Linked DNA regions of Homo sapiens. The protein of the gene in region 1 purifies or fractionates together with the protein of each later gene. This does not show direct contact. Each region holds a gene or a part of one and is shown in the gene's direction. Other genes may lie near its edges.

What was found.
Region 2: the proteins of ASF1A (region 1) and IPO4 purify together in Homo sapiens (affinity purification with mass spectrometry; 5 studies listed by BioGRID and IntAct, with this or other methods). This does not show direct contact.
Region 3: the proteins of ASF1A (region 1) and TONSL purify together in Homo sapiens (affinity purification with mass spectrometry; 5 studies listed by BioGRID and IntAct, with this or other methods). This does not show direct contact.
Region 4: the proteins of ASF1A (region 1) and RBBP7 purify together in Homo sapiens (affinity purification with mass spectrometry; 6 studies listed by BioGRID and IntAct, with this or other methods). This does not show direct contact.

The regions. Positions count from the first base shown.
Region 1 is NC_000006.12:118,904,148-118,909,852, forward strand, and holds the end of ASF1A (histone chaperone ASF1A), read left to right. Parts: intron 1-1,504; coding exon 1,505-1,681; intron 1,682-3,254; coding exon 3,255-3,467; 3' UTR 3,468-5,024; downstream 5,025-5,705. UniProt on the Homo sapiens protein: Histone chaperone that facilitates histone deposition and histone exchange and removal during nucleosome assembly and disassembly.
Region 2 is NC_000014.9:24,185,652-24,193,481, reverse strand, and holds the start of IPO4 (importin-4), read left to right. Parts: upstream 1-4,665; 5' UTR 4,666-4,694; coding exon 4,695-4,763; intron 4,764-4,843; coding exon 4,844-4,930; intron 4,931-5,058; coding exon 5,059-5,138; intron 5,139-5,224; coding exon 5,225-5,266; intron 5,267-5,685; coding exon 5,686-5,815; intron 5,816-5,902; coding exon 5,903-6,082; intron 6,083-6,331; coding exon 6,332-6,397; intron 6,398-6,502; coding exon 6,503-6,604; intron 6,605-6,690; coding exon 6,691-6,774; intron 6,775-7,030; coding exon 7,031-7,195; intron 7,196-7,299; coding exon 7,300-7,353; intron 7,354-7,511; coding exon 7,512-7,621; intron 7,622-7,830. Other genes in the region: TM9SF1 (transmembrane 9 superfamily member 1 isoform a precursor), read left to right, coding at 213-834, 1,126-1,311, 2,829-3,102, 3,674-4,067. UniProt on the Homo sapiens protein: Nuclear transport receptor that mediates nuclear import of proteins, such as histones, RPS3A, TNP2 and VDR. Serves as receptor for nuclear localization signals (NLS) in cargo substrates.
Region 3 is NC_000008.11:144,441,289-144,448,705, reverse strand, and holds the start of TONSL (tonsoku-like protein), read left to right. Parts: upstream 1-4,265; 5' UTR 4,266-4,291; coding exon 4,292-4,316; intron 4,317-4,430; coding exon 4,431-4,526; intron 4,527-4,681; coding exon 4,682-4,824; intron 4,825-5,384; coding exon 5,385-5,568; intron 5,569-5,899; coding exon 5,900-6,029; intron 6,030-6,293; coding exon 6,294-6,465; intron 6,466-6,554; coding exon 6,555-6,669; intron 6,670-7,417. UniProt on the Homo sapiens protein: Component of the MMS22L-TONSL complex, a complex that promotes homologous recombination-mediated repair of double-strand breaks (DSBs) at stalled or collapsed replication forks.
Region 4 is NC_000023.11:16,867,249-16,874,694, reverse strand, and holds the start of RBBP7 (histone-binding protein RBBP7), read left to right. Parts: upstream 1-4,332; 5' UTR 4,333-4,641; coding exon 4,642-4,657; intron 4,658-4,831; exon of another isoform or gene 4,832-5,053; coding exon of another isoform or gene 5,054-5,201; intron 5,202-5,474; coding exon 5,475-5,619; intron 5,620-7,446. UniProt on the Homo sapiens protein: Core histone-binding subunit that may target chromatin remodeling factors, histone acetyltransferases and histone deacetylases to their histone substrates in a manner that is regulated by nucleosomal DNA.

The DNA.
Region 1 (5,705 bases):
GCTGGGGAGATCAGTTAGAAAATTCTAAGCAATATTCCAGATAGGAGATGACATGAATTCAGCCTCCAGAAATGAAAAAAATGTTGAGACTGACTAGATGTAGGAGATAAGGGAGTGAAGCTGACTGAGGTTTTTAGCCTAGGACACTAGGTAGCGATTTTATGCCTTTTTGTATCATCTACCTGTGTTAGGCATACAGTAAACAACAGTCTTCAATTTTCACAAGCTAAGGCATTGGCTAAAGTGCTCATCTAGGCCCAGGAATATTCCTTGGTGCCCTGGCAACAGGTAAGCTAATTTGCTGGGACTTGATCCATTTACCACCCAGAATGGCTGCCTCAGATGCCTCAGCCATCACTGCCTGTGTTCCCCAGTCTGGCTCCTTCCATCCGGTCGTCTCATTACTACCTGCACCCTACCACGGATGGGGCCCTGCCCTTCGCTCATGCTCTTAGTCTAGTCTAACTCAGTTTACTTTCTGCATTCCTCAAGGTTCACCTTACAATAGCTTGATTTAAAACAAGGTCTTTGACATCTGCCTAAAGCAATCCTTACCTTCACTGGTTTCCACATTATGTGTGGTTTAAAGAGCATACTATATTGTAGAGTCTAGCAAAGTAACTATTCATAATAGAGGATTATTAATATTTTTTGAAAATCTGCTATGTAGCTATTTCCATCTCATTTTCAGTTTTGTTTTGTTTTGTTTGAGACGGAGTCTCACTCTGTCGCCAGGCTGGAGTGCAGTAGTGCGATCTCAGCTCACTGCAACTTCCACCTCCTCGGTTCAAGTGATTCTCCTGCCTCAGCCTCCCAAGTAGCTGGGACTACAGGCACCCGCCACCATGCCCAGCTAATTTTTGTGTTTTTAATAGAGATGGGGTTTCATCATGTTGGCCAGGATGGTCTCAATCTCTTGACCTCATGATCCACCCACCTTGGCCTCCCAAAGTGCTGGGATTACAAGTGTAAGCAACCACACCCAACCTCATTTTCAGTTTTATACTAATTTACTATTAGAATACCTGTGGGGGTGGTTGAGTGGGTATGAGAATATAAGTATCCTGGGTTGAAGAGGGAAACTGGTATAATAAACATTTGTGGCCAACAGTCTATGAGGAGATCATTTAATACTTACTAATTTAGGTCTGAAAATTATGACTGAAAAGGTTAAAATCAATTGCTGACTATAAAGGTTTTATAATGAATAGTGTATAATCCTTTCATGAACCACCATGCAGTGTAGCCAGAATTTCTTCCTTTTACAAGTGTAGTCATGCTTTCAAGTATCAAGGGTCCTTACATATATTGTGGCAAAACATGAACTGTCTTTTCCAGCTTATTATAAGTCAGTCAGAAATGAGCATTTTCCTTCCCAGTATGATTTCCAAGTTTTTCTTGTTGCATCCTCAACTGATGGTTCTAGGTAACTGAAACTCCAGTCTTGCCTGCCACTAACAGCCTTTTGTGTGTGTGTGTTTCTTTTCTTTTTAATTTATTCTAGGCTGATGCACCTAATCCAGGACTCATTCCAGATGCAGATGCAGTAGGCGTAACTGTTGTGCTAATTACTTGTACCTATCGAGGACAAGAATTTATTAGAGTTGGCTATTATGTAAATAATGAATATACTGAGACAGAATTAAGGGAAAATCCACCAGTAAAACCAGACTTTTCTAAGGTAATGTTCTTACTATTCCTTTTTAACTACTTTTACTATGCAATTTTTAAAGCAGTTGCTATTGCAATTTCATAGTATACTATTAAAATGGCTTTGAGATAAAATAAATATGAGGTCCTTATGCCAACTGGGCAAACTAATTATTGTTCCATTACCATGGATGACTTCAAACCCTACCTTCAGATGAGTCATTAGTAATTAATGTAGGCAGACACCTTGAGCATTTCTGGTTTAGAAAAATGAAAGTACCTCTTTTTTTTCTGAGATGGTTTCCTGCTCTGTTGCTCAGGCTGGAGCGCAGTGGCATGATCTCGGCTCACTGCAACCTCTGCCTCCTAGGTTCAAGCGATTCTCCTGTCTCAGCCTCCCAAGTAGCTGGGACTACAGGTGTATACCAACACGCCCAGATAATTTTTGTATTTTTAGTAGAGGTGGAGTTTCACCATGTTGGCCAGGGTAGTCTCCAACTCCTGACCTCAAGTGATCTGCCTACCTTGACCTCCCAAAGTGCTGGGATTACAGGTGTGAGCCACCACGCCCAGAGAAAGTACTTCTTGTAAGACAGGCCTTTGTTTATGGCTTTCTTTATAGCATTTCCCATATTGATTATTCCCATCATGATTCTGTTCATTTCAACCTTTAGGACAAACAAATGCATTTTTGTTGTACTAATTATTCAATGATGATATTTTTGTGTGTAACTCTTCCCAAAATTATGAAAGTTTTATGTTTGTTTTTCCTATGAATACGGTTATCTCAAAACACCTATACGCTTTATCTGCTATTCTTAGAAGTTAAACTAACAGTCTTAAATATTTCTGGTACTGAAAACAGCTTAAATTCTGAGTGAGAAGCTGAAATCTAGGATTCAGCATTCTTAAAGATACTTAGTATTTTCTGATTTTTCACTGGGAACTATAACAGTTTGGTAACTGGTGATTTTGTGAGAGTGCAGAGTAAATGAAGTTGAACCATGCAAGAAAAATTACATGACAATAGAATAGAATGTTCTCATGTTCTTTCTGATAATAAGGCCGGACTATTTTTCACCCTTGTTGTACCTTCCATTGATCCAATTTGTTATCCCTGAAGCACCTTATATAGCACAAAAGAAACAGGACTGTTTCTAAGAATGAGCCATCTTTAAAAGGTGTAGGAAACCATTAATAATAAGTTGTATTTGACAATTTTTCATTTTCCTTTGAAAACATACCAATCTAAACAACATAGTAGCTTGTTAAATAAAGCATCTTCTGAAGCATTCATTTTCAAAAATGAGGAGATTCTTTCTTTTAGAAAACAGAAGTATAGGAGTTAAATAGTTAAAAAGCCAGATGAATCCCCTCAGATTCTCCGTATCTTGTTTCTGTTAATCTAAAATAACTTCTTTGCTACAGCCCTAGTCGTTACATCTTATTAGTTATATTTAAGGTACTTAACTTGAATTATACCTTTGTATATGAACTTAGCCCTTTAGGAGTACTAACATGAACCATTTTATTAAGCTTCTATTTGTATATGGTGATTTAACTTTCTTAGTGTTTACCATTTGTATGTTTCCTTTTTCCTCTAGCTTCAAAGGAATATTTTGGCATCTAATCCCAGGGTCACAAGATTCCACATTAATTGGGAAGATAACACAGAAAAACTGGAAGATGCAGAGAGCAGTAATCCAAATCTACAGTCACTTCTTTCAACAGATGCATTACCTTCAGCATCAAAGGGATGGTCCACATCAGAAAACTCACTAAATGTCATGTTAGAATCCCACATGGACTGCATGTGACCACCTACCATCCCTTTAGTACAAATTAAGCTATTAAAAATACACAGAACTATTTCCCTGAAATTCCGTAAGTACATAGTCAAAACACAATGTGAAGAATTTGTTTAAAAACATCCTGTAGAAAGTTTATAAGAAAACCAGTATTTGAACAAATTGTGGAATATAAATACAACTATTTTTAAGTAATTTTTTTCTCTAATGTGTTATTTTATTTGTTCTGAAACTAATCTGATTAAAGCATATATATTATTTTCTTCTCCTTTATATGTAATGAAAGCACTTATAAAGAAACAGGAATCATTAGACCAGGTTGTAAAGATGTCTTGGCCTCCCAGACAGTCTTTGGACCACTATTTTACTGGCCTTTGAAAGAACAAAGTTTACTTCAACTAAAATGTTTCTTCCTGTGAAGACATATGGTATCATTTTAATTTAAGGGGCAGATTTCCATTCTTTTTTGGCATGTCCTTAAAAAGAGGATTTGAAATCAACTATATGCTACCAAGAACTTTAGGATCCAATTTTCCAAGCCACCGTGAAGCCTCTTATGGCTACTATTATAGTTCATGAGATGTTGGACAGCATTTGGTTTGTTTGGTAAGAGAAGAACAAATATGGCTAATTGTTAATAAGGTCCCCTGGCTATGGTTTTTGTTCTTATAACAGAGTTTAGAATATCAGAGCATTTCTTGAATCATACATCATTATTGTCCAGTGAATTCAAGACCAAATACAATATCGGGAGAAAATACAAACTCCCTGTGTTTAAGAATAGGGGATTACAATGGCTCAAATTGGTTCATTTGATTTCTAAAAATACCATGACCTTTAAAAATTCTTTTAATAGATCATGTTATTGGCAGTATTTATATAAAAACCATGGATTTAGAAAGGTATATTTAGCTTTATTATAATAGATACGTTACTATTTTGGAAATATATATATTTTCACACCTGTAGTACTCTTCCCCATTTCCTCTGACACTCATGCAGAATGAGATCAGGCATATTTGTGGTTGACATACTCTAGATAGCTTTTCCAACAAATCTTTGAAAAGCAATCTTGGAAAGGAATTCATTAACTAAATGGGGTAAAAGGTTTCTTTTTCTTTGAGAGTTAAGTCCTTCCTCAAAAAATTTTCTTATGCTCCATAAAATTGAGGTAGAATATTTTCATTATTCTTGCAGCTAAGCAAGACAGCCATATGATGCAGGTTATGCAGTGCCTTCATATCTAAAACTTTTATACTGCACTTTTTAAAGCTTTTATGTTGAGGAAAGGAAAAGGGCATTTGTCTAAACATGGATTCTGAGTTGTATATATTTCCTATCATTCTAAAAAAGTGAATTTGTGAAGCAAAGTTTTGCCAGATGTTAAACTTTGAATTTAATATACCAGATTATTAAAATATTGTCCATTAACTAGTTCATAGATTTTAAAAGTAAAATACTTCTGACTGTTAAAACTATATAAAGAAAATCTCATTTGTCTAATTGCAATTAAAAGAAAAATGTTAAAATATTAAAATGAAAATAAAAGCATTACTTTCCAACAAAGAGCTCAGTGGTTAATATAATAGGAACAACATATGTGCTTATTAGAAATAAAGCATATACAGCCAAATCACCAAATAAAGCCATTTACTGCTGAGTTTTTATTCTGACTAATTATAACAATCTATTTGTAGTGACATCAAAGGGTTAGGTTTTTGTATCAAGTTGTAAATGGACAACCAATTTTCACTTAAGCTTGGGACATGCGAACCATTACCTTTTGTTATCTTAAATTTTATCACTCTAAGAATTTTTTTAATGACTGAAAATAGATTTAGACTTCAAACATTAGAAACGTAAGAAACTGTAGCACATAAGTTTTTTTTCCACCCGGTCTAGCGTCATTTGCCAATACTGTATCTGAAGAACTATTTTCCACCCTTTTGCTCATAGTAAATAGCTGTGTCCTAAGAATATAAACATGAACCAATGACTTATGCCACTAAGATGGAGGCATTAAGGGTATTATTTGGGCTGAGAAAACATTCCAGAGGTCTGAAGAAGTATGCATGCATTTATTTGCCCATTCATAACCTTATACAACTTTAGGCTCCCATATAACTATACCCTCTAATTTTAGGATTTGGGGTTTCTAGCTTTCCCAAGAATGTCTATGGCAGCAGTTATCAAAACTTTTTACCATAATCCATGGTATAAAAAACTTAGGGCCGGGCGCAGTGGCTC
Region 2 (7,830 bases), on another chromosome or scaffold:
GGCAGGAGAATTGCTTGAACCCAGGAGGCAGAAGTTGCAGTAAGCCGAGATCGCACCACTGCACTCCAGCCTGGGTGACAGAGCAAGACTCCATCTCGAAAAAAAAGAATTATCCACCCCAAAATATCAGTAGTGCTGAAGGTGAGAAACTTTGCTGTAACTCTGCGCCTGGGGAGATCTTGTGTGACCAACTCCTGACTTGCTCTTTATAGGTGGAGCAGCTGCGCCAGGCCATTGAAGAACTGTACTACTTTGAATTTGTGGTAGATGACTTGCCAATCCGGGGCTTTGTGGGCTACATGGAGGAGAGTGGTTTCCTGCCACACAGCCACAAGATAGGACTCTGGACCCATTTGGACTTCCACCTAGAATTCCATGGAGACCGAATTATATTTGCCAATGTTTCAGTGCGGGACGTCAAGCCCCACAGCTTGGATGGGTTACGACCTGACGAGTTCCTAGGCCTTACCCACACTTATAGCGTGCGCTGGTCTGAGACTTCAGTGGAGCGTCGGAGTGACAGGCGCCGTGGTGACGATGGTGGTTTCTTTCCTCGAACACTGGAAATCCATTGGTTGTCCATCATCAACTCCATGGTGCTTGTGTTTTTACTGGTGGGTTTTGTGGCTGTCATTCTAATGCGTGTGCTTCGGAATGACCTGGCTCGGTACAACTTAGATGAGGAGACCACCTCTGCAGGTTCTGGTGATGACTTTGACCAGGGTGACAATGGCTGGAAAATTATCCATACAGATGTCTTCCGCTTCCCCCCATACCGTGGTCTGCTCTGTGCTGTGCTTGGCGTGGGTGCCCAGTTCCTGGCCCTTGGCACTGGTGAGGTGATAAAAATGAATTGGGGATTTATCTCATGGGATAGAACTAGGTAGGGAGTTTGTTCAGAAAAGGTCTGTGGATCTTCTCTTCTATCCAGAGGGGCAGACCTAAGGGATAGGGTGGCTCTAGCAAGAATGCACGTATTCTATTGTAGATTTTCTGGATAGCAAAACTGGGGGAGATTGTTTTGCTGGAGGCCCTGGGTCTGGGAGAAGGGGGGCTGATTCCTCTGAAATTGCTAGAAGAGACACAGGTGAGGCCTAACTTGGGCTTTCCGCTACCGTCCTGCAGGCATTATTGTCATGGCACTGCTGGGCATGTTCAATGTGCACCGTCATGGGGCCATTAACTCAGCAGCCATCTTGTTGTATGCCCTGACCTGCTGCATCTCTGGCTACGTGTCCAGCCACTTCTACCGGCAGATTGGAGGCGAGCGTTGGGTGTGGAACATCATTCTCACCACCAGTCTCTTCTCTGGTGAGGACTTTCCTTTCCCTGGTGGGCCTTTCTGGACTTAGGAATGAAGAACACATTGTGGCTGGTCACAGTGGCTCACACCTGTAATCCTAGCACTTTGGGAGACCGAGGCCGGAGGATCACTTGAGCCCAAAAGTTTGAGACAAGCCTAGACAACATAGTGAGACCCTCTCTCTATAACAAAAAATTAGCCGGGCATGGTGGTTCACATCTGTAATCCCAGCTACTTGGGAGGCTGACCCAGGAGGATTGCTTGAGCCTGGGGAGCCAGGGAGGTTGAGGCTACAGTGAGCCATGATTGCACCACTGCACTCTAGCTGGGCTGACAGAGTGAGACTGTCTCAAAAAAAAAAAAAGAACACATCATAGAACTTGGGATAGAGTCAGGATGAGGCTTGAAGGGAAGGAATATTGTAAAAGAAAGAAGAAAACCAAAAAAAAACAAGAATGCATTTCTTTTGAATAGTTTAAAATTACTAAGCCCTCAAAATGTCCTAGGCAGTGTGGAAAGCACTCAGCAATAACTGTGTGAAGTAGGTAATATTTCCATTCCACAGATGAGGAAACTGAACTAAAGGCTGCTTAAGTAACTTGTCTGAGATTACACTCCTAAAAAGTAGTGAACTAGGTTTCAGCAGTCTGACTTGTATTCTCACCCATTACACTAAAATAACACCCTTGAATTTTTATTTTGAAGGTGGGCCCACTCTAGGCTTTCAAACCAGATTGCCCTTTCAAAGGCAGTAGTAGTCTCTGTTCTGAACCCTTCTTGTTCCCAATTCTGTGTGTCTGATTTTTATCCCATCACATTTATATTTGAACCAAGGCTTTCTGAAAACAGGGCCTTAATCCAAAGGAATGTCTCATGCTAGGAATTACCAACTCCAAGGCAAGACAGGCCCCTGGAGGCAGATGGATTTGTGCTACTCTCAGATTATGTAGTAGCTACCTGGATCCTTAATGACACCGGGTTGGGGGATGGTGTTGGTAAGATAAAGAGCAAAGAGTCCGGGTGTGGTGGCTCATGCCTGTAATCCCAGCACTTTGGGAGGCTGAGGCAGGCAGATCACCAGGTCAGGAGATCGAGACCATCCTGGCTAACACAGTGAAACCCCATCTCTACTAAAAATACAAAAAATTAGCCGGGCGTGGTGGCGGGCGCCTGTAGTCCTAGCTACTCACTCGGGAGGCTGAGGCAGGAGAATGGCATGAACCTGGGAGGCGGAGCTTGCAGTGAGCAGAGATCGCGCCACTGCACTCCAGCCTGGGCGACAGAGCGAGACTCTGTCTCAAAAAAAAAAAAAAAAAAAAAAAAAAAACACAGAACAAAGAATAATGGGACCTGAAAGGGTGGAGGTGAAGGCAGTCGACTCTGCAGGGACATCCAGGAGCATGAGTCTGCCGTTAGAGTGGCAGGCTGCTTCAGCCCCCTCCCCTTTTGGTCCTGGATGTAAGTGGGTGCCCTTAGAGATGTAGCTCCTAGTGTTGACCCTCCCTCCGGGGGCCCATCCCTGCAGTGCCTTTCTTCCTGACGTGGAGTGTGGTGAACTCAGTGCATTGGGCCAATGGTTCGACACAGGCTCTGCCAGCCACAACCATCCTGCTGCTTCTGACGGTTTGGCTGCTGGTGGGCTTTCCCCTCACTGTCATTGGAGGCATCTTTGGGAAGAACAACGCCAGCCCCTTTGATGCACCCTGTCGCACCAAGAACATCGCCCGGGAGATTCCACCCCAGCCCTGGTACAAGTCTACTGTCATCCACATGACTGTTGGAGGCTTCCTGCCTTTCAGGTATCCTCCCTTTATTCCATGGCTATTACTGTCAGGTTCCTGACCTCAATTTTTCCTGTCCCTACTCATCCAGTACCCTAACCCAACCCGTTGATCCCTGGTTCAGTGGTACCATTCAGAGATCATTAAATGGTTCCTCCTATCCCCAAGCAGGACTGAGCTTGAATGATATGAGAGTGTCTCACTTATAAAGCTCTCCGGAGACATTTCCCCCTTCACCTTCCTGGTTTCTGACTTTAATGCCTATGGACATCATGTGGGGTTTAAAGCCCATTTGATGACCCATTTACTTTGTTGAATACCTCTTTGTGCCAGGCAAAGAATAAAGTGGAATAAAATGGACAAGATCCCTGCCCTCAATCTATTAGGGAAGATATTCTTGAAGTGAGAGCGGCTAATCATAGGCAAAAAATCCCCATGAAGCCAGGAGATCTGGGGCAGAGAGTGGAGTGAACTCACTTTTCACAATGACCCAGCAACATGGGAGAGGGTGGGGGCTGGATTTCAGCCCAGCCACTGTGCTGATGGTGCACAGCCCTTTAATGCTGTGTATCATCTCTTTTCTTCACAGTGCCATCTCTGTGGAGCTGTACTACATCTTTGCCACAGTATGGGGTCGGGAGCAGTACACTTTGTACGGCATCCTCTTCTTTGTCTTCGCCATCCTGCTGAGTGTGGGGGCTTGCATCTCCATTGCACTCACCTACTTCCAGTTGTCTGGGGAGGATTACCGCTGGTGGTGGCGATCTGTGCTGAGTGTTGGCTCCACCGGCCTCTTCATCTTCCTCTACTCAGTTTTCTATTATGCCCGGCGCTCCAACATGTCTGGGGCAGTACAGACAGTAGAGTTCTTCGGCTACTCCTTACTCACTGGTTATGTCTTCTTCCTCATGCTGGGCACCATCTCCTTTTTTTCTTCCCTAAAGTTCATCCGGTATATCTATGTTAACCTCAAGATGGACTGAGTTCTGTATGGCAGAACTATTGCTGTTCTCTCCCTTTCTTCATGCCCTGTTGAACTCTCCTACCAGCTTCTCTTCTGATTGACTGAATTGTGTGATGGCATTGTTGCCTTCCCTTTTGCCCTTTGGGCATTCCTTCCCCAGAGAGGGCCTGGAAATTATAAATCTCTATCACATAAGGATTATATATTTGAACTTTTTAAGTTGCCTTTAGTTTTGGTCCTGATTTTTCTTTTTACAATTACCAAAATAAAATTTATTAAGAAAAAGGCTCATGCAGTTGGAGGTTTTGGTCTGGATATAGGAACTCGAGCCCTGCTGTTAAGGGCACGGTCCTTTATAAAGCCGAGCTGGCCACTGAATGCCCGAAGCTCGAGTTCTCCAACCCAGCTTGGGAACTCCCGGCGTGGGGAACCTACATTGCCAGAGTCGGGTTTCCGCGATTCAGCCGGTGCTCAGCCTAACGGAAGTGGAGGAGCCGGACCTCTTTGTGGGAAGCGAATTGAATCACCTTGGCAACCCGCGGGGCGTGCAGCAACGCCCTTTCCTCCGGAAGTGGGTGTCAGAACCTCCACGTGCTGTCCCTCCCCCTCCCCTTTTCGGCCCAGTAGCGGCGGCTCAGTTGCTGCCATGGAGTCAGCCGGGCTAGAGCAGCTCCTACGGGAGCTGCTGCTACCGGACACCGAGCGCATCCGTCGGGTACGGAGCAGGCGTAACCGGGCCAGGGCGAGCGGGAGGTTGCGGGAAAGGCCCAACTCTCACCCCTAGCTTCCCCCCAGGCCACGGAACAGCTCCAGATCGTTCTTCGGGCCCCCGCCGCTTTGCCGGCTCTCTGCGACCTGCTAGCCTCGGCGGCCGACCCCCAGGTGAGACCCCTGACTCTCCCCTCCGAGCTTCCCACTGTACGCCACCGGTCAAGCCCCAGTATTCGCCCACTGCGGTCCGCTCAGCACCTTCCTGCCCGGACCCCCACGTGCTTGCTTCCTCGTCCTAGATCCGCCAGTTTGCGGCCGTGCTGACCCGCAGACGACTGAACACCCGCTGGCGACGGCTGGCGGCGGAGCAACGGGAGAGGTGGGCTGGGCCTGGGGTGGGGCGGGGCCAGGCGGAGACTTTTCTTGGGCAGGCTGGGTACCAAACACCTGCCACCTGTGTTCCAGCCTCAAGTCCCTGATCCTGACGGCCCTGCAGAGAGAAACAGAGTAAGTACCTACCCACTTCTCTCGGGATCTTGACGACTTTGTCTAGGTTTCTGCCTTCCTTTTCGGCTCCAGGCTGGGACTTGTGGGGCAGGGACTTCAGTTCTAGACGCAAGGTGGAGTGAGGATTTTAAGGCTGTTTTGAAGACTAAAGTTCTTGAGGAAGGGTGATGATGATCTGCCAAACCCAAGTCAGAAGAATAAGACTGAAATTCAGGCTAAGTTAGACTGAACTTACCAGATTACATGCCCACAGTGCTGTTGGGCTCCCTCTGAGCTGCTGTCTCATGTGTCCCAACTTGGCAAAGACCCTGTGCCCACACCTCCTGAAAGTTTCTGTCCTGGCTGCCCCATTGAGCCTGGCCACTGTGTGCAGAGGAAGGTATTGAAGGGTGATTGGAGGAGATCTCTCCTGTTTGCAGGCACTGTGTGAGCCTCAGCCTGGCCCAGCTCTCAGCCACCATTTTTCGAAAGGAAGGCTTGGAGGCCTGGCCACAGCTTTTGCAGCTGCTTCAGCACAGTACCCACAGCCCCCACAGCCCAGAGAGAGAGGTACCATCACATGGTTGGCAGGAGGGAGGGCCTGAGAGGCTGGATAGACCTTGTAAGCTTGCTCTCCCATCCTCTATTCTTGGACAGATGGGGCTTTTGCTGCTAAGTGTGGTGGTGACCTCCCGGCCCGAGGCCTTCCAACCCCACCACCGGGAGCTTCTTCGGCTTCTGAATGAGACTCTTGGTGAGGTGGGCTCTCCTGGGCTGCTCTTCTACTCCCTGCGCACTCTGACCACCATGGCTCCCTACCTCAGCACTGAAGATGTGGTGAGATGTGGGCCCTCGTTATCTTTGACTCCCTTTCCTCATGCCTTCATGTCCTCACCCGTAAAAGTTACAAAGCTGCTTTGGATTCTTTACCTGCCTGTGGCCCTTCCTGACAATTGAGAGGGGATGCTGTAGGTGGGCCTGGCTGTTATGCCTGGGCTCCTCCTCGCAATTCAGGCTGTGAGGAAGCTGCCAGCTGCTGGGGTGTGAGATTGGGCTGCATCATGCTCTCTGTGATGTGTCCCTCAGCCTCTCGCTCGGATGTTGGTGCCCAAGCTGATCATGGCCATGCAGACTCTGATCCCCATAGATGAGGTGAGGACAGGTGGGCAGGAGCTCTGTTGGAAGGAGAGTGCAGAAGTGTCCAGTTTGGCCCACTGAAGAAGAGCATGGTAACCTTGTGCCTTGTTTGTCTGTCAGGCAAAGGCCTGTGAGGCCCTTGAGGCTTTGGATGAACTGTTGGAGTCAGAGGTGCCGGTCATCACCCCCTACCTCTCTGAAGTCCTCACATTCTGCCTGGAGGTGAGCCTGGAGTGGACATGGCCCCTGCTACATGCTCTGCTGGGACTCTCCTTCCCTGTCGCTGATTTTTATTATTCTGTGGACAGGTAGCTAGAAATGTGGCCCTGGGCAATGCGATACGCATACGTATTCTCTGCTGCCTCACTTTCTTGGTCAAAGTCAAGAGCAAGGTAAGTGAGTGCCCATTGACACACATCACCCCACCCCCATCTCCACCCTTAGTCTCACTCCTGGGGCTTTCGGTCCATCTCAGGGTATCTAAAGTACTGTGGGGGTTCAAGCCTTGGCCTGGCCTCACCCCAGCTCCTGCCTGGGAGGTTGGGAATTTTCTGTCAGACCCCTTATGGCCTGGAAGACTGGAATTTTTAATGTGAGCCCATCCTGGGAGCAGATTCTTAGGGACACTGTTCCACCTTCTCTGTCAAGGCCTTACTGAAGAATCGTCTCCTGCCACCCTTGCTGCACACCCTTTTCCCCATTGTGGCTGCTGAGCCCCCACCAGGCCAGTTGGATCCCGAGGACCAGGATTCAGAAGAGGAAGAGTTGGAGATTGAGCTGATGGGGGAGACTCCCAAGCATTTCGCTGTACAAGTGAGATGTGGGGCAGGACAGAGGGGGAAGGTGTTAGGTGGCTGTGGGACGTTGGGGAGGCAGAGATGGAGTCAAGCAAAGTAAGTCTCCCCATCCCATCTCAGGTTGTGGACATGCTGGCACTACACCTGCCCCCCGAGAAGCTCTGTCCCCAGCTGGTAAGTGTGGCTCTGTCCTTCTGGTGTCCCTACCTCCAAGTGTGCCTAGTCCCCCTGAGGCCAACGACGTTTAGACCCTGGGAGGTGTGAAGGCCTATTACCACAGGAATGGGCAGGCTCTTGCTGGGGTTTCAGAAGCGTGCCACATGCTTCCCTAGATGCCCATGTTGGAAGAGGCTTTGCGGAGCGAGAGCCCATACCAGCGCAAAGCTGGACTCCTGGTGCTGGCCGTGCTGTCTGACGGAGCTGGCGACCACATCAGGCAGAGGTATGTATTCCCCTGTCCCAGGGTGAGGGTTGCCCACAGGGAGGACCATGGCTGTCCTGGTTTACGCTTGTTGTTCAAGCTTATTTATCAACAGCGTTTCCCCCCATTATCAAAAGTGTCCTGGCTTGGAAGATAAATGACATGGCTTACCAGCTATAGGGACCAGGGGCTGCTGCCCACCCTCTGGTGACAGGAAAAGCCTTGGTTTT
Region 3 (7,417 bases), on another chromosome or scaffold:
CCCAGCCCCCAGCACATCCTTGGGAGCAGCTGCCTCTGACTCTGGCACCACCAGGGTGAACTTGGGCACCTCAGGGCTGCGCTTTGGGGCTGTCCTCCCTCATGCTCCACCCACAGGCGCAGAGGGTTGGGCTATGGCTCTACATCTCTTTGGAAGCCCGACGCCCTCTAGCGTAGTGTTTCTGGGTCCAAGGTGATGGTGTGGGGCGCACGGGTGGGGCGGGCTTGCCCTGTCACCTGTTTGGTTGTGTGTGTGAGAGACTGACTCAACGGAGGGACAGGCCCCAGCATGTCTCTGGGGTGGGGAAGGTGGGAGGCTTGTTCTTCATGGGGACAGCCAGGCTGGGACGCCAGGGGCCTGGAGGCAGACGTCTCTGCAGGTTGGGGGGCCACGTGGAGAAAGGAGACCCGGGGCTGGTTGAGCTCCTGCAGCCCCACCTCCGCAGTCCCGGGGCAACCAGCCCTGTGGGAGTTCAGGATGGGAGGGGCTGGCCTGAGGGCAAGGGCAGTGTCCACACAAGGCCCTTCCAGATGTGGGATGTGGGTGCCTCAAGTCTGCAAGTGCGGCCCAGCGTACTCAGCAGGCATCTGCCCTGTGACCATGACATGCAGCAGCTGAGCCTTATGGCCTGGGGGAGCCAGGCACCTGGGAGGACCACGGTGGGTCCTCGGCCACCGGGAACTGGAGCACGGGCTTCCCGTGGCGTTGCCAACGTGGGCCACACATGACAGGACCGCCAAACACACGGCTTGTGTCCAAGACCCTGAGACATCTTGACGTCCCGACCTGCTCCTTTGTCTTCTCTGAGGATGGGGGCGTGGGGGTCCACACTCCGCAGATGTGGGGGGCATAGCCTAAGCCAGGCCCCACCCTTCTCCCTCCCTTGTCTCATCCCCACCCCCTGGTGAGCACCACATCCCTCATTTATAAAAATAGGCCAGGCACGGTGGGTCACGCCTATAATCCCAGCACTTTGGGAGGCCGAGGCGGGCGGATCACCTGAGGTTAGGAGTTTGAGACCAGCCTGACCAACATGGTGAAACCCCATCTCTACTAAAAATACAAAAATTAGCTGGGCGTGGTGGCGCGCGCCTGTAATCCCAGCTACTCAGGAGGCTGAGGCAGGAGAATCGCTTGAACCCAGGAGGCAGAGGTTTCAGTGAGCTGAGATTGTGCCACTGCACTGCAGCCTGGGTGACAAAGCGAGATTCCGTCTCAAAAAAATAATAATTTTTTAAAGAGCAGAGCAAGAAGTGTTTTTACCATTGTTGGAAATGACTTATGTGTCACTTTTGTGGTCTGCGTTCTCTTTGGATATTTTCTGTATGTAACAACTGTAGTTTAAAAAAATATTCCAACCCATGTTTTGTCTGTGTTTCCTTACCAGAAGACAGACACACAGCTGGGCCTTCTGGGCTCTGCTGGCCTCCCCTGCTGCCCTCAGCCTGTGGCAATCTGCACCAGGCCTGCAGCCCTGCACAGCACTGCCTGACGTGTGTACCTTGTCTGGTTACTGGGGAAACAGGCACAGAGAAATTGGGTTGTCAGCCGGGCATGGTGGCTCACGCCTGTGATCCCAGCACTTTGGGAGGCTGAGGCGGGTGGATGACCTGAGGTTGGGAGTTCGAGACCAGCCTAACCAACATGGTGAAACCCTGTCTCTACAAAAATACAAAAATTAGCTGGGCGTGGTGGTGGGCATCTGTAATCCCAGCTACTCAAGAGGCTGAGGCAGGAGAATCACTTGAACCTGAGAGAAGGCGGTTGCAGTGAGCCAGAATCACGCCATTGTGCCCCAGCCTGGGCAACAAGAACAAAATTCTGTCTCGGAAAAAAAAAAAAAAAAAAGAGAGAAATTGGGTTGTCTCTGAAGGGGAATTCGGCTTCCAGGAGCTGGGCTGTCCTGTGGACCCTGGGGCTGAAGGGGATACTTAATCGTTGTCCAGGTAGCTCAGGGAGCCCCTCTGGTGTCCAAGCCACCCTGTCTTCAGCTGTTCATCTGAGTCCTCTGATTCTGAATCTCACTCCCCACTCCCTCCCTCAAGCCTCACTGTGCCCCTCACACACCTCACCAGCTTGCCCTCCAAGTAGTTGCCTTGGCTCAGAGCCATGCTTTGGATGGGCAAGGGGTTGGCAGTGCAGACCTCCACAACCTGTCCTCACACCCAGGCCTGCCTGGATTTCCTGCCTCCTGCAGCTTGTGACTGCACAGGTGTGCAGGCTTGGCCTGGTCCCACCCCTGCAGCCTTGGAGGCACCGAGGCCCAAATCTGCCCAGTCCAGGGGCCACGCCAGGAGGCCAGCGCTCTGCCGTCAGCCTGAGGAGGGCTCCAGCAGCCTTTACTGGACCCAGGGACCTGTCAGTGCATCACACCACTCTCTCCCCAACAGATCTCTCTGGCTGAGTTTTGCCCAACGACTTGCTGTAATTACGATGGAAATTAACTCATCTATCTTCCACTCCTGAGGCTCCTCAGTTGGACTCTGTGCACCCAGCCTCCTCTGGGGCCTCTGGGAAACCAGCCACTGCACCTGAGTGCAGTGCTGGGTGTGCTGTGTAGCCGGGAGTCAGATACCCAAGGCATGGCAGGTGTTTGGTCCTCAAGGTAATGGGGGATAGCAAGGGTATTTTAGAGGCCTGGGTGCCCCATGTCACAGGATTCTAGACATAATTTTGCAGTTGTTTTCTCTCTTTCTTCCTTTTTTTTTTTTTTTTTGAGACAAGAGTCTCGCTCTGTTGCCCAGGCTGGAGTGCAGTGGCGCCATCTCCGCTCACTGCAAGCTCTGCCTCCCGGGTTTACGCCATTCTCCTGCCTCAGCCTCCCCAGTAGCTGGGACTACAGACACCCGCCACCACGCCCGGCTAATTTTTTGTATTTTTAGTAGAGATGGGGTTTCACCGTGTTAGCCAGGATGGTCTCGATCCACTGACCCCATGATCTGCCTGCCTCAGCCTCCCAAAGTGCTGGGATTACAGGGGTGAGCCATTGCGCCCGGCCCTCTCTTTCTTCCTTTCTTTCTTTTCCTCCCTCCCTCCCTTTCTTTTTTTTAAATAAAGATGGGGTATCGGGCTGGGCATGGTGGCTTACACCTGTAATACCGGCACTTTGGGAGGCCGAGGTGGGCGGATCACAAGGTCAGGAGTTTGAAACCAGCCTGGCCAGCATGGTGAAACCCCGTCTCTACTAAAATGCAAAAATTAGCCGGGCATGCTGGCACGCGCCTGTAGTCCCAGCTACTTGGAAGGCTGAGGCAGGAAAATCGCTTGAACTCGGGAGGCGGAGGTTGTGGTGAGCCGAGATCACACCATTGCACGCCAGCCTGGGTGACAGAACGAGACTCCGTCTCACACACACACACACACGAAAGATGGGGCCTCACTATGTTGCCCAGGCTGGTCTCGTACTGCTAGGCTCAAGCGATCCTCCTGACCGGGCCTCCCATAGCGCTCGGATTACAGTGCGGGCCACTGTGCCCGGGCTACTTCTGCAGCTGAAGCACAGGTTCACTGACTCTTCCGAGAATACAGCTGGCATACACATTGCTGAAACAATACTTGTTCACTATGGAAAGCACATTCCCCTCCCAAAACAGTCCTTGGGGCCGAGTCCCCAAATGTGACCCAGCTGCGTTCTGCGGAGGAGGAGCGCGCCTGACACCTTATTACGTCCCCACAGCCAAATGCTCGTGAATTTATCGTCAGTCTATCTGGACACTACGTTCGTTTTTAATAGTTGCGCCTGTGAGCAGGCTGTGTGTGTGAATTTCGGGAGGAATTGGGGCGGCGGCACAGCTCGTCCACCATGAGTAGCGCGGGCGGCACGGGGGCTGCAGCCCAGAAGACCCCACCCAGGGCGCGCTGCGACCCCGGACGGGCTGGCTCCGGGCCCCCGGCCTCCCGCGTCCCCGCCGCCTACGAGGAGGAACGGGGTCCCCACCAGGCACTCCCCGGGCCGGGCAGAGGGCTCCACGCGCGGGCCAACCCGGCGTCCGGGAAGACGGCCCCTAGGGTGGGACGCCCCAGTTGTCGCCGCCACCCCGCCCCAGCTCCTCCCGCACGAGAACTCCGAGGATGCCGCGGGCGGGCCGACCGTACTTCCCGGAATGCCCCGCGCCCGCCGCCGCCGTCGAGGGGCGGGGCCTGCGTGTCGGCGGCGAGGGGCGGGGCCTGCGTGTCGGCGGCGAGGGGCGGGGCCTGCGTGTCGGCGGCGAGGGGCGGGGCCTGCGTGTCGGCGGCGAGGGGCGGGGCCGCGGCGCAGCGCGGGAAGTCCGGATCCCGCGGCGATCCGAGCATGAGCCTGGAGCGCGAGCTTCGCCGTAAGTTCCTCGGGGACCCCTTCCTCCGGGGGCGCGGAGGCTGGGGAGGGCTTGGGACTCGGCCCCGGCCCCGGACCCCGCCGCGGAGGCCCAGCCCTCCTCTTCCTCCCACAGAGCTGAGCAAGGCGAAAGCCAAGGCGCAGAGGGCCGGGCAGCGGCGCGAAGAGGCCGCGCTGTGCCACCAGCTGGGGGAGCTCCTGGCCGGCCATGGTGAGCGCCGGGACCAGGAGGCGGGAGGCAGGGCCGGGGCCCGGGCCCGGGCCGGGATCGGGGGCCGGGGGGCGACGGGCTCTTCCGGCAGACGCCGCCCCAGGGCCGCCCTCGCACCCGCGACGCCTGCCAGGCCGTGCTGTGCCCCCGCCTAGGCCGCTACGCCGAGGCTCTGGAGCAGCACTGGCAGGAGCTGCAGCTTCGGGAGCGCGCTGACGACCCTCTGGGCTGTGCCGTGGCCCACCGCAAGATCGGAGAGCGCCTGGCCGAGATGGAGGACTACCCGGCTGCCTTGCAGGTGCGGGCGCCCTCACTGGCCTCGTCCAGCCCGGTCGGCCTCTGGAGCCCTTTTCTGAGGAGGGAGGCCTGGTCTTCGCCGTCAGGAGCCTCGGGCTGGAGGGGACACCTGACCTGACGCAGCCTTGCCTTCACCGCCCCGGGCCAGTCCTCCGGTGGGGACCCCACAGCCTTTCCTGGGACTGGGGCAGGAGTAGGTTTCCTGGCACCAGAAACCATTACTGAACGTTATTTTAGCTGTGTTTGTGTTGGGGGAGGTCAGGCCCCATCCCAAAAGCTCTCCCTGACCCTGGCTGCTGGAGGCAGGACTGCAACCCCCCCGCCAACTCCCAGCTGCCCCTCCCCACGTGACAGCGTTGGCTGCATACAGCGTGAAGCCACTGTCACCACAGAGAGCCCTTGGCATGCAGAGGAGGGGCACGTGTCTGGCCTTGGCCTGCTCTGTGGGGGTTAGGGGGAGCAGGCTCTTTCCTTAGCAAGAACAGGGTCTCTGGGAATCTGGCGGTGCCGGTTTGCTTGAGGCGGAGTCGGCTCACAGCAGTGACTTCCTTCCACACTCAGCACCAGCACCAGTACCTGGAGCTGGCACATTCCCTGCGCAACCACACGGAGCTGCAGAGGGCCTGGGCCACCATCGGCCGCACCCACCTGGACATCTATGACCACTGCCAGTCGAGGGATGCTTTGCTGCAGGCACAGGCTGCCTTTGAGAAGAGCTTGGCTATTGTGGATGAGGAGCTGGAGGGTGGGCAGACCCCTCCGCGTTTTCTGCCTCCTGAACTTCGGGCCGAAGAGGCTGCAGCCCAGCACCCCCGCAGCCTCCTTGGGCAATCCCGTCTTCTGGAGCCCTCCCTTTGCAAGGCTCTTGTGTGAGGGGTGCATGCCCCGCTCAACCTTTCCCCTGGAGATCGTCAGCTCTTTATCCACTCTGTGCTCCATCTGCCGCAGGACACTTGCACCCACCTCGGGAGGAGGGAGGGGGTAGGAGAGGCGCTGCACAGGCCCCAAATGGGGCCCAAAGCTGGAAACCCCATGTGGGGAGGAAGTGGCTGAGTGTTTGGGGGGGTATCTTCCAGGGACACTGGCCCAGGGAGAGCTGAATGAGATGAGGACCCGCCTCTATCTCAACCTGGGCCTCACCTTTGAGAGCCTGCAGCAGACAGCCCTGTGCAACGATTACTTCAGGAAGAGCATCTTCCTTGCGGAGTAAGGCCCTGCCCCGCCCCAGGAGGGAGTGGAGTCCCTTGTTCCTGGAGGAAGTAGTTAGGGGAGTATTTTTCCCAGAGTCCTCCTGAGAGAGCAGTCTGGCTGGGCCTCATCCCCCCACCTCTCACACCTGTGCCACACACTGGGAGAAGGCCAGGCATGGTTAGGGCCCTGAGACCACAGCATGGCAGGGCTGGGGCCCGTGTGGCATCAGCAGCTGTCATGGACACTCCTGGGTGCTCAGTGGTCGTCACCCCTCTGCAGGCAGAACCACCTTTACGAGGACCTATTCCGCGCCCGCTACAACCTGGGCACCATCCACTGGCGCGCGGGCCAGCACTCCCAGGCTATGCGCTGCTTGGAGGGTGCCCGGGAGTGTGCGCACACCATGAGGAAGCGGTTCATGGAGAGCGAGTGCTGCGTGGTTATTGCACAGGTACCCGCTGTGCGTGGCTCCGAGCTCAGGCTCTCGTAGATTCGGGCCTTGGGGATTCTGCAAAACCTTTGCTGTCCTTTGCTCTCCAGGTCCTCCAAGACCTGGGAGACTTTTTGGCTGCCAAGCGAGCCCTGAAGAAGGCCTACAGGCTGGGCTCCCAGAAGCCTGTGCAGAGGGCAGCCATCTGTCAGAACCTCCAGCATGGTGAGCCTGGGGGTGCGAATGGGGCCCTGGGAGGTGTGTGCAGGGGTGAGCCTGGGGGCGGGGTGGAGTCCCGCCAGGTGTGTACAGGGCTCTCTCCCTCACAGAGGAGGCCTGAGCACCTGTCCTTGGAGGCAGCAGCTTCAGCAAGAGGGGCAGGTACCCCTACTTCCTGACAGGAGAAGACCCCCTTTTTTCTCTGAGCTCAACACAGTGTGTCAGGGGCAATGAAAGGGCGGCCAGGAGACCAGCTGGGCTTTTATTTCGCAGCCACCATCTTCATTGGCAAACTGGAGACAGTAGTTGTACCCCTAGCCTCCCAGGGTGGGAGAGGAGATGGCACGCGTGGTCCAGGAGTGCTGATGGCAGAGACCACCATTGGAGGTTGGCAGCCGTCAGCCCTTACTTTGAGCCAGGCACCATCCATGTTGTGTTGTTTTTTTTTCTTGAGACGGAGTCTCGCTCTGTCACCCAGGCTGGAGTGCAGTGGCATGATCTCGGCTCACTGCAAGCTTCGCTTCCCGGGTTCATGCCATTCTCCTGCCTCAGCCTCCCGAGTAGCTGGGACTACAGGTGCCCGCCACCACACCCGGCTGATTTTTTGTATTTTTAGTAGAGACGAGGTTTCACCATGTTAGCCAGGATGGTCTCGATCTCCTGACCTCATGATCTGCCCGCCTCGGCCTCCCAAAGTCCTAGGATTACAGGCGTGAGCCACTGTACCTGGCCCCGAGTTTTTAAGTGTGTTAGT
Region 4 (7,446 bases), on another chromosome or scaffold:
AATAAATAGTAATGTGTTATACATTTCAAAATTGCTGAGTGTATATTTTAAGAGTTTTCACTACAAAAAATGTTAAGTACGAGAGGTGACGAATTTGTTAATCAGCTTGATTTAATCATCTCACAATGTAAATATAAATCAAAACATCACATTGTACCCCATAAATTTATACGATTGTGATGTCCATTAAAAATAAAATTAAAAAAAGAAGGTTTACATGCAAAGCTTTCTCATTGCTGCTTATGGATTGGGACAAGCCTAAGAAGAGTTTCTTGTTCATTATTTTTCGTTTGACAAATATTTATTTACCACGCCCCAGTGATTCTAAGTCTAAGCCTCAGTGATTCTGGTCTAGGTCATTTCCTTTATTCACTGTCCCCAATGCAGAGCTCAAGTGGCTTAGCCTCAATAGCTAGCAACAGGGTAGGTTGGTCTTTTAGAAATCCAGAGGGACACCCCACAAAGGTTACATATTAACACATTTGTAAGTATAAAACAGTTACTTCACTTTTCCTAATAAAATATCAGAATAGTCAATGCAAACAAAGTACGAGTTCAAAGAACAGTGTATTTTCTATTAAAAGAATTTTCCTTCAACTCCCTCTCACACAATTGCATTAAACAATATTTTAAAAGAAATTTCTTAGAATTTTATCACATTAAGACAACTCTTCATTTGTATTACTCCTCTGACATTTTTTTTTCTAAAATGCATGCGTTTTTTCTATTTATATGAGCACTATGCATCCAATGGAAAAAATTTTAAAATAGGGCAATATATGAAGAATAAAACAACAATATACTAGTATCAAGAGACAACAGCTATTAATATGTTAGCGTATTTTCTTCTGCTCCTAATAATGACTGGATGAAAACAATTTGGCCAGAAACAAAATTGGTATTCCTTATGCTCCTCTTTTGCTTGTATAATTTTCAGATCTTTCTGTAACAAGCTTTGTTTTTGTAATAAGAAAAACAAACAATAAAGGAGAGTATAAAAGAGCAGGGTCTCTGTATGCCTTGTTCATCCAGCTAGCTGCAGTTTCCAGAACACTGCTTGGCTCACAGTAGGTACTTCAAAAATTTTTTTGAATGGCTAAAACTTTTTTGCCCCCAACCTAGTGAACCACAGCTGCTAATGAACATGGAATCACTCTGCAGGTATGTCTGGGTACTATGTCTCTGATTCCTTTTAGTAAATAGTTTGTTCTATCCATAGGATCACTTTCGCTGTCTTAATATAAGACTGATTAAATTCAAATTCCAACTCCAACACTCACTAGCTATGTCACCTTGGCAAGAAACCTCACCACTTTGGCTCAGCTTCCTCATGTGGTGAGCACCGGTCCAGGTGCTGAGGGCACAACAAAACAAGAATCCTACCCTCTAATTTACATTCTAGTGTGCAAGAAAAAGCCTGTGGACAAACATCTGTCAGATGGCGATAAGCGATAAGCGCTGTGAAAAAACAGAAAATAGAGTAAAGGGGATAGGAGGTGATTACCTGTGGGGGTGGATGAGGGCGTGTTGCTATTTTATAAAGGGTAGTCGGCAACAGCTAAAGGTTTAAAAACTAGGCCCAGCACGGTGGCTCATGCCTGTAATCCCAGCACTTTGAGAGGCCAAGGTGGGCAGATCCTTGAACTCAAGAGTTCGAGACCAGCCTCGGCAACACGGTGTCTCTACTAAAAACAAAACAAAACAAAATCTGGGAATGGTGGCCTGTGTCTGTGGTCCCAGCTACTTGGGAGGCTGAGGTGTGAGGTTTGCCCGAGCCCAGGAGGTTGAGGCTGCAGTGAGCTGTGATCGTGCCACTGCACTCCAGCCTGGGTGACAGAATGAGAGCCTCTCTCAAAAAAAAAAAAAAAGAAAAGAAAAGAAAAAAAGAAAGAAATAGAAATTTAAAAATCATAGTGTAGTGTTTTTCAAACTTCAAGTTGTGACTAAGCGCAATCATGAAGTCCATTTAGAATTTGCATTTTCGAAAAAATGAAATAAAATTCATCCCTTCCTTGTGTGTGTGCACCTGTTTGTGCCTTACTCTATTAGCTGAGCACAGGAGAGACAAAAAGAACAACCCCAGAAAAGTGCCAGAAAAGATTAGGACCAGAGCTAAGAGGCTGGGGAGAAAGGCAAAACAAACCCAACAGTTAAGCAATCCAAGAGAGAAAACATATCACTTTTTTTAATGCAAAAAAAGTAGTATGGAAAAAAGGCCAAAAAATTAAATAGAATTGACAGATTCAATTTAACAACAACAAAAATGCAAAACTAATGAAATATGCTGTACATGACACTTTCGGATTAAATGCATGATAGTGTGTGAATATTCTCAGAAATTCCCAAAATATTTGTTCCATATTTCCTTCTCTGACCCTCACTGAGGTAAACAGTATCAAGATTTTAAAGCCAAGTCGTCTGGGAAGATTTCTTTTCTTTCAGTCCTTTAAACATTTCTTTTAATAGGTTTTGGAAATCATGTCTACTTGTCAGAAATGAGTACACTGTATTAAAGGGATACAAATCATCTCCCAAGCCGCCTCTTGCTTTGCACACGAGGTTCTCTTTGAAGCAGAGCCATAAGGTACAATTATTCTAGAACAAGGTGGGCAAACTACAGTCCTCCGACTAAATCTAACCCACCACATGTTTTTGTATGACCCTCGAGCTGAGAATGGTTTTTCCGTTTTCAAGTGATAGAAAAAAAAAATCAAAAGATTTTGTGACCCGTGAAAACGATTTTAGTGTCTGTAGTTTTATCGGAACGCAGCCAAATGCATCCATATTTTCCATGGCTGCTTTGCGCTGCAAAGCGACAGAGTCGAGCAGTTGCCCCCAAAGCCTAAAATATTTACTATCTCGGTCCTTTTAGAAAAAGTCTTGCCAACTAATGTCCTAGAATATGAGGGCTGTATTGCTTAAACACCCTTCCAACTCTCTTCCCTCTCTAGCCACCCCCTCAGCCTTAGGCACTAACAAGATTCCTTGACCCAGAATGGGGGGAGGGCGTTATAATAATGAACGGTATTGTATCGGAAACAACACAGTAAATATCTACAGAAGGGAATGTGACTGGTTCTGCCACTGACTAACGTCTGGGTTTGCGTCCCGGTCAGAAAAGTGGGCATGACAGCGGCATCTGCAAGATAGCATCTGAGCATGAAGGCACTTGGAAAGGTATCAAGGCAGCAAATGTTCCGGGGGTGCTTTTGCAAGAGGAGCCTCTCCCGGAGCTGGACGTACACTTCGGTTCCCTTTGCACGCAGGCACCTTGGTCGCCTCCCCCAACTCCGTCCCCTCTGCTCCTGGCCCTCATTTTCTTCTATTTCCCTTTTGGCCTTGCAGCCAGCTTTCTCCTCCCCCGACACACTCCTCAGGGGCTATGAAGTTCCTGAGCAGAGCAGGGCTCAGGTAAGCAGGCCCAGGGTAGTTCAGCCCTGCTCTCTCCAGCTCCGCCAGCTTGGGGTGGGGTCGCGCTGGGACCCCTGCAGGTGACAAAAATGACTCAGCAGGGGCCGGGGCTGGGATGAGAAAGGAACGCCAGTGCAGGGACAAAATCCCCTGAAGCGCGAAGAGGCCGCAAACCATCATCTTAAGGACCCAAACATCGAACAAATTAAAATGTAACAGTGTAAATCGGCTTCGGCCCGCCGGCGGCCTGTGCCGCCACAGGCTGCACATTTAGCCTAACAGGGCGGCCCGGCGGCTTTTGCAGGCAGAAAACGCCCGCGGCCTCTCCAAAAGCTCTCCTCCGTCTGAGACCAGCCCCACCTCGGCCCGACCGGGCCCCAGGAAAGGCCAGTCGGCTGGAGGAGAACATTTCAGGGGTGCAGAGAATTGCATGTCCGTGATTATCAGGGAGACTTTGAAGGCACAGTAATCTCTCGAGAACAGGAACCATTTTCCCCTCTTGCTCTGAGATTTTGCTTGGCTAAGCGGCGGCAGCCTCCCTGCCCCCCTCTCACCCCCACCACCGCTGCCGCTACAAGCAACCACGCCCCGCGGGCCCCAAGGCTCGCCGCCCCGGGGCTCGCGGCCCCCACTCAGCCGGCCAGCCGCGCCTCCATCAGCCCCGCCCTCGCGCGCCCCCATCCGCCCCGCCCCCTCGGGCCCTCATCCGCCCCGCCCCCGCGCGCCCCATCCGCCTCCGCGGCCGGCCCTGGGAGCGCCGGGCGAGCCCTCGCGCCTGCGCATCGCCAACTTCCTGCCGCGGCACGCTCCGCCCACCCCCAGAAGCCCGCCTCCGAACGCCGCGTGAAACCCGCCCGCCGCGCGTCATTGGTCTCGGCGCCGGAGCCGTTGGCTCCCAGACCCGCCTCTCCGCCTCCTCTCACTTTTCCCAGGGCGGATGCGCCTGCGCTCAGCTGCCTGGGCGGGCTGGGAGGCGCGGGTTGAAAAGTCTCGTTCCAAGTTTGGAGAGAGAGAGAAGAGCGCCTCAGACCTCGGTACCCGCGAGCGGGGAGGAGGCAGGAAAGAAGGACGCGGCGTCTGGGGAGCACCCAGGCAGCAAGACGGGGCCCGGGCTTTCGACAGTGGGGAGTGTGACGCGCTTGGGAAAGGCAGGAGCGCCAGCGGTCGGGCTGCTCTTGGCTAACGAGAGGAGTCCGAGGCGGCGGCGAGGGGCGAACGACCCGACGCAAGATGGCGAGTAAAGAGAGTAAGAGGCCCTGCGGGGCGGCGCGCGCCGGGGCCGCGGGGGGCGGCGGGCGCGCGAGGCCGCGGCACGCGCCGGCGAAAGGCGCGAATTGGCGTGCGGAGCAGGGGGCGGGGCCGGGCGCGAGACTGGGCGCGCGCCTCGAGGGGCCTGCGCGGGACGGGACCGCCGCGCCGAGGGCTCCGAGCACTTCCGGAGCCGGGCGCGGGGCCGAGGGCTGGGCCCCCCTCTTCCCTTCCCTCCTCCAGCGGCTGCGCTCCCTCCGGCGCCCTCGGCCCCGGGGCGGAGGCGGCCCCCGCCGCTGGGAAGCGAGCGCCGCGGCTCTTTCTACGCGCGCGCGCGCGTTGACCGCCTCGGGGTCGCGGCCCTTGTCCGGGGGTTGCTGGGGTCCTCAGGCCTATGGCTGCCGAGGCGGGCGTCGTGGGAGCTGGGGCCTCCCCTGATGGGGATTGGAGAGACCAGGCCTGTGGGCTTCTGCTACACGTGCATTTGTCTTCCCGACTGGGTCGCGCAGCCCCTGTACGTACAGGTCGTCATCTTAGAACAGGTGCGAACAGCTGTAACAGGGTAAACAATTTCCATGTCCGTGTAATTGACTACCCAACATGGTGTACGCAGGGGGTATTGATCTCAATGGAAAAAATAGGCTTCCTGATTGTTAGTATTTTCTCCACCTTCTGGAAGAGCAGTTAGTTGTCCGTGTCCAAATTAGAGGTAAAAGGAAAGAGTACATGAGGTGTGGCCATCTTGAGGTGACCTCCAATTTCTGACTTTGATCTATCTCAGCCACTTAATCGTGTGGGCTTTCTCCAAATTTCAGTGTTTGAAGATACTGTGGAGGAGCGTGTCATCAATGAAGAATATAAAATCTGGAAGAAGAATACACCGTTTCTATATGACCTGGTTATGACCCATGCTCTTCAGTGGCCCAGTCTTACCGTTCAGTGGCTTCCTGAAGTGACTAAGTAAGGGTTTCTGGCAACTTTTATTTTGTTTAAATTTAACTGTCGTTCTGAATTTCCTAGTTTTGGCGTTTTATGCATAGAACATAAGTATGTAATCAGCCCTTGCATGAGGTGGCAGGTGGTTTTTATTTTCAAAACTTACGTGATTTGTGGGATGATTTCTGGTGTATAGTGTGGTGGTAAAAGGGGAGAAAGAAGCTGTTGTGAGATTAATCGTGTTTGGAGGAAGCACTGAATATATTTGACATTTCCTGGGCTTGAATGTAGAGCAGCATCTTTCTGGGCCCAAACTAATGCGTTTCTTTAAAACTTTACTGAAAAATAGAATATTTACGGAAAAGTTCACACATCTTAAGTGTTGTATGGCTTGATAAATTTTTACAAAGTGAACACACGTAACAGTCATCCAAGATAAATACATTTTAATTGGTAAAGGGAAAAAGACCTTGTCAACAATTGACCAAAGAAAAGATGTTATCGGCTTATGGAATACACTTTGAGATTGCTGTTAGTCTTCATAAGAGTATTCTTTTCTGTTACATCTGCAGTTTCTCTGGTAATAATTGCTGGCATTTATTGAGCACTCAGAACAGGGCCTGGCACATCTGAAGAATCTACGTCCTGTTGTTTGTTGTAATCCTCATAATAGTACTATGCTGTAGGTACTTTTCATCATCCTTGTTTTACTGATAAGGAAACTGGGAGTGAGAGTTTAAGTGCCATCCCAAGATCACACAGCTGGTCCCTGCATTAGACTGCCTTTCTCATTCACTTGCACCTTTTCTAGTAGGAACTTGACCATGTACTTTTAAAGTGTATTAAATATGGGGTCAGGCACAGTGGTTTATACTCCTGTAATCCTAGTGCTTTGGAAGGTTAGCTTGAGCTCAGGAGTTCAAGGCTGCAGTGAGCCATGATTGCGCCACTGCATTCTAGCTTAGCCAACAGAGTGAGACCGTGTCTCTCAAAGAAACAAAAAACAAGCATCTTAAATTTGGGTGTTGCGGACATATAATTTAAAGAGGATTAAATGAAACTCTAACCTAAAAAGAGGATTTTGCAACAAGTTATAAAAATAATAAGCTAATTTTGGCTGGGTGCGGTGGCTCACGCCTGTAATCGTAGCACTTCGGGAGGCCGAGGCAGGCGGATTGCCTGAGCTCAGGAGTTCAAAACCAGCCCAGGCAACAAGGTGAAATCCCATCTCTACTAAAATACCAAAAAAAAAAAAAAACCGGGCGTGGCAGCGTGTACCTGTAGTCCTAGCTACAGGCTACAGGGAGGCAGAGGCAGGAGAATTGCTTGAACCTGGGAGGCGGAGGTTGCAGTGAGCCAACATCGCACCACTGCACTCCAGCCTGGGCGAGAGCGAGACTCCATCTCTTAAAAATAAAAATAATTATTATAATAATAATCTAATGTATATAAAACTGCTCTTACAGTGGCCGGGTTCTCCATATGCAAACATTGATTTCTATACAGATAGGAATTTCCACTAGGCTTCCCAAAAATCTAAATATAAATGTACAGATGTGGGAAGAGTAGAGAAGAACTAAATGATGGAGACTTGGAAGCATTGACGTTTACAGCCACAACAGATTGAAAAATAGATTAAGCATCATATACTCGGGTATTCAAGTTCTGGTTTGGAGCATCGTGTGCATTTGCCTCTTTGGTCTGTTAAGCAGATTTAAAATGTATTAACTAAATTTACCTTTTGGGGGATCTTTTTGACCCACTGTAACATAATAGAAAACAGCAGGGGCTTTAAACTTAGAGACCTGGGTTAAAATCATGCCCCTACTTCTTAGCTTCATGAACTGGGGC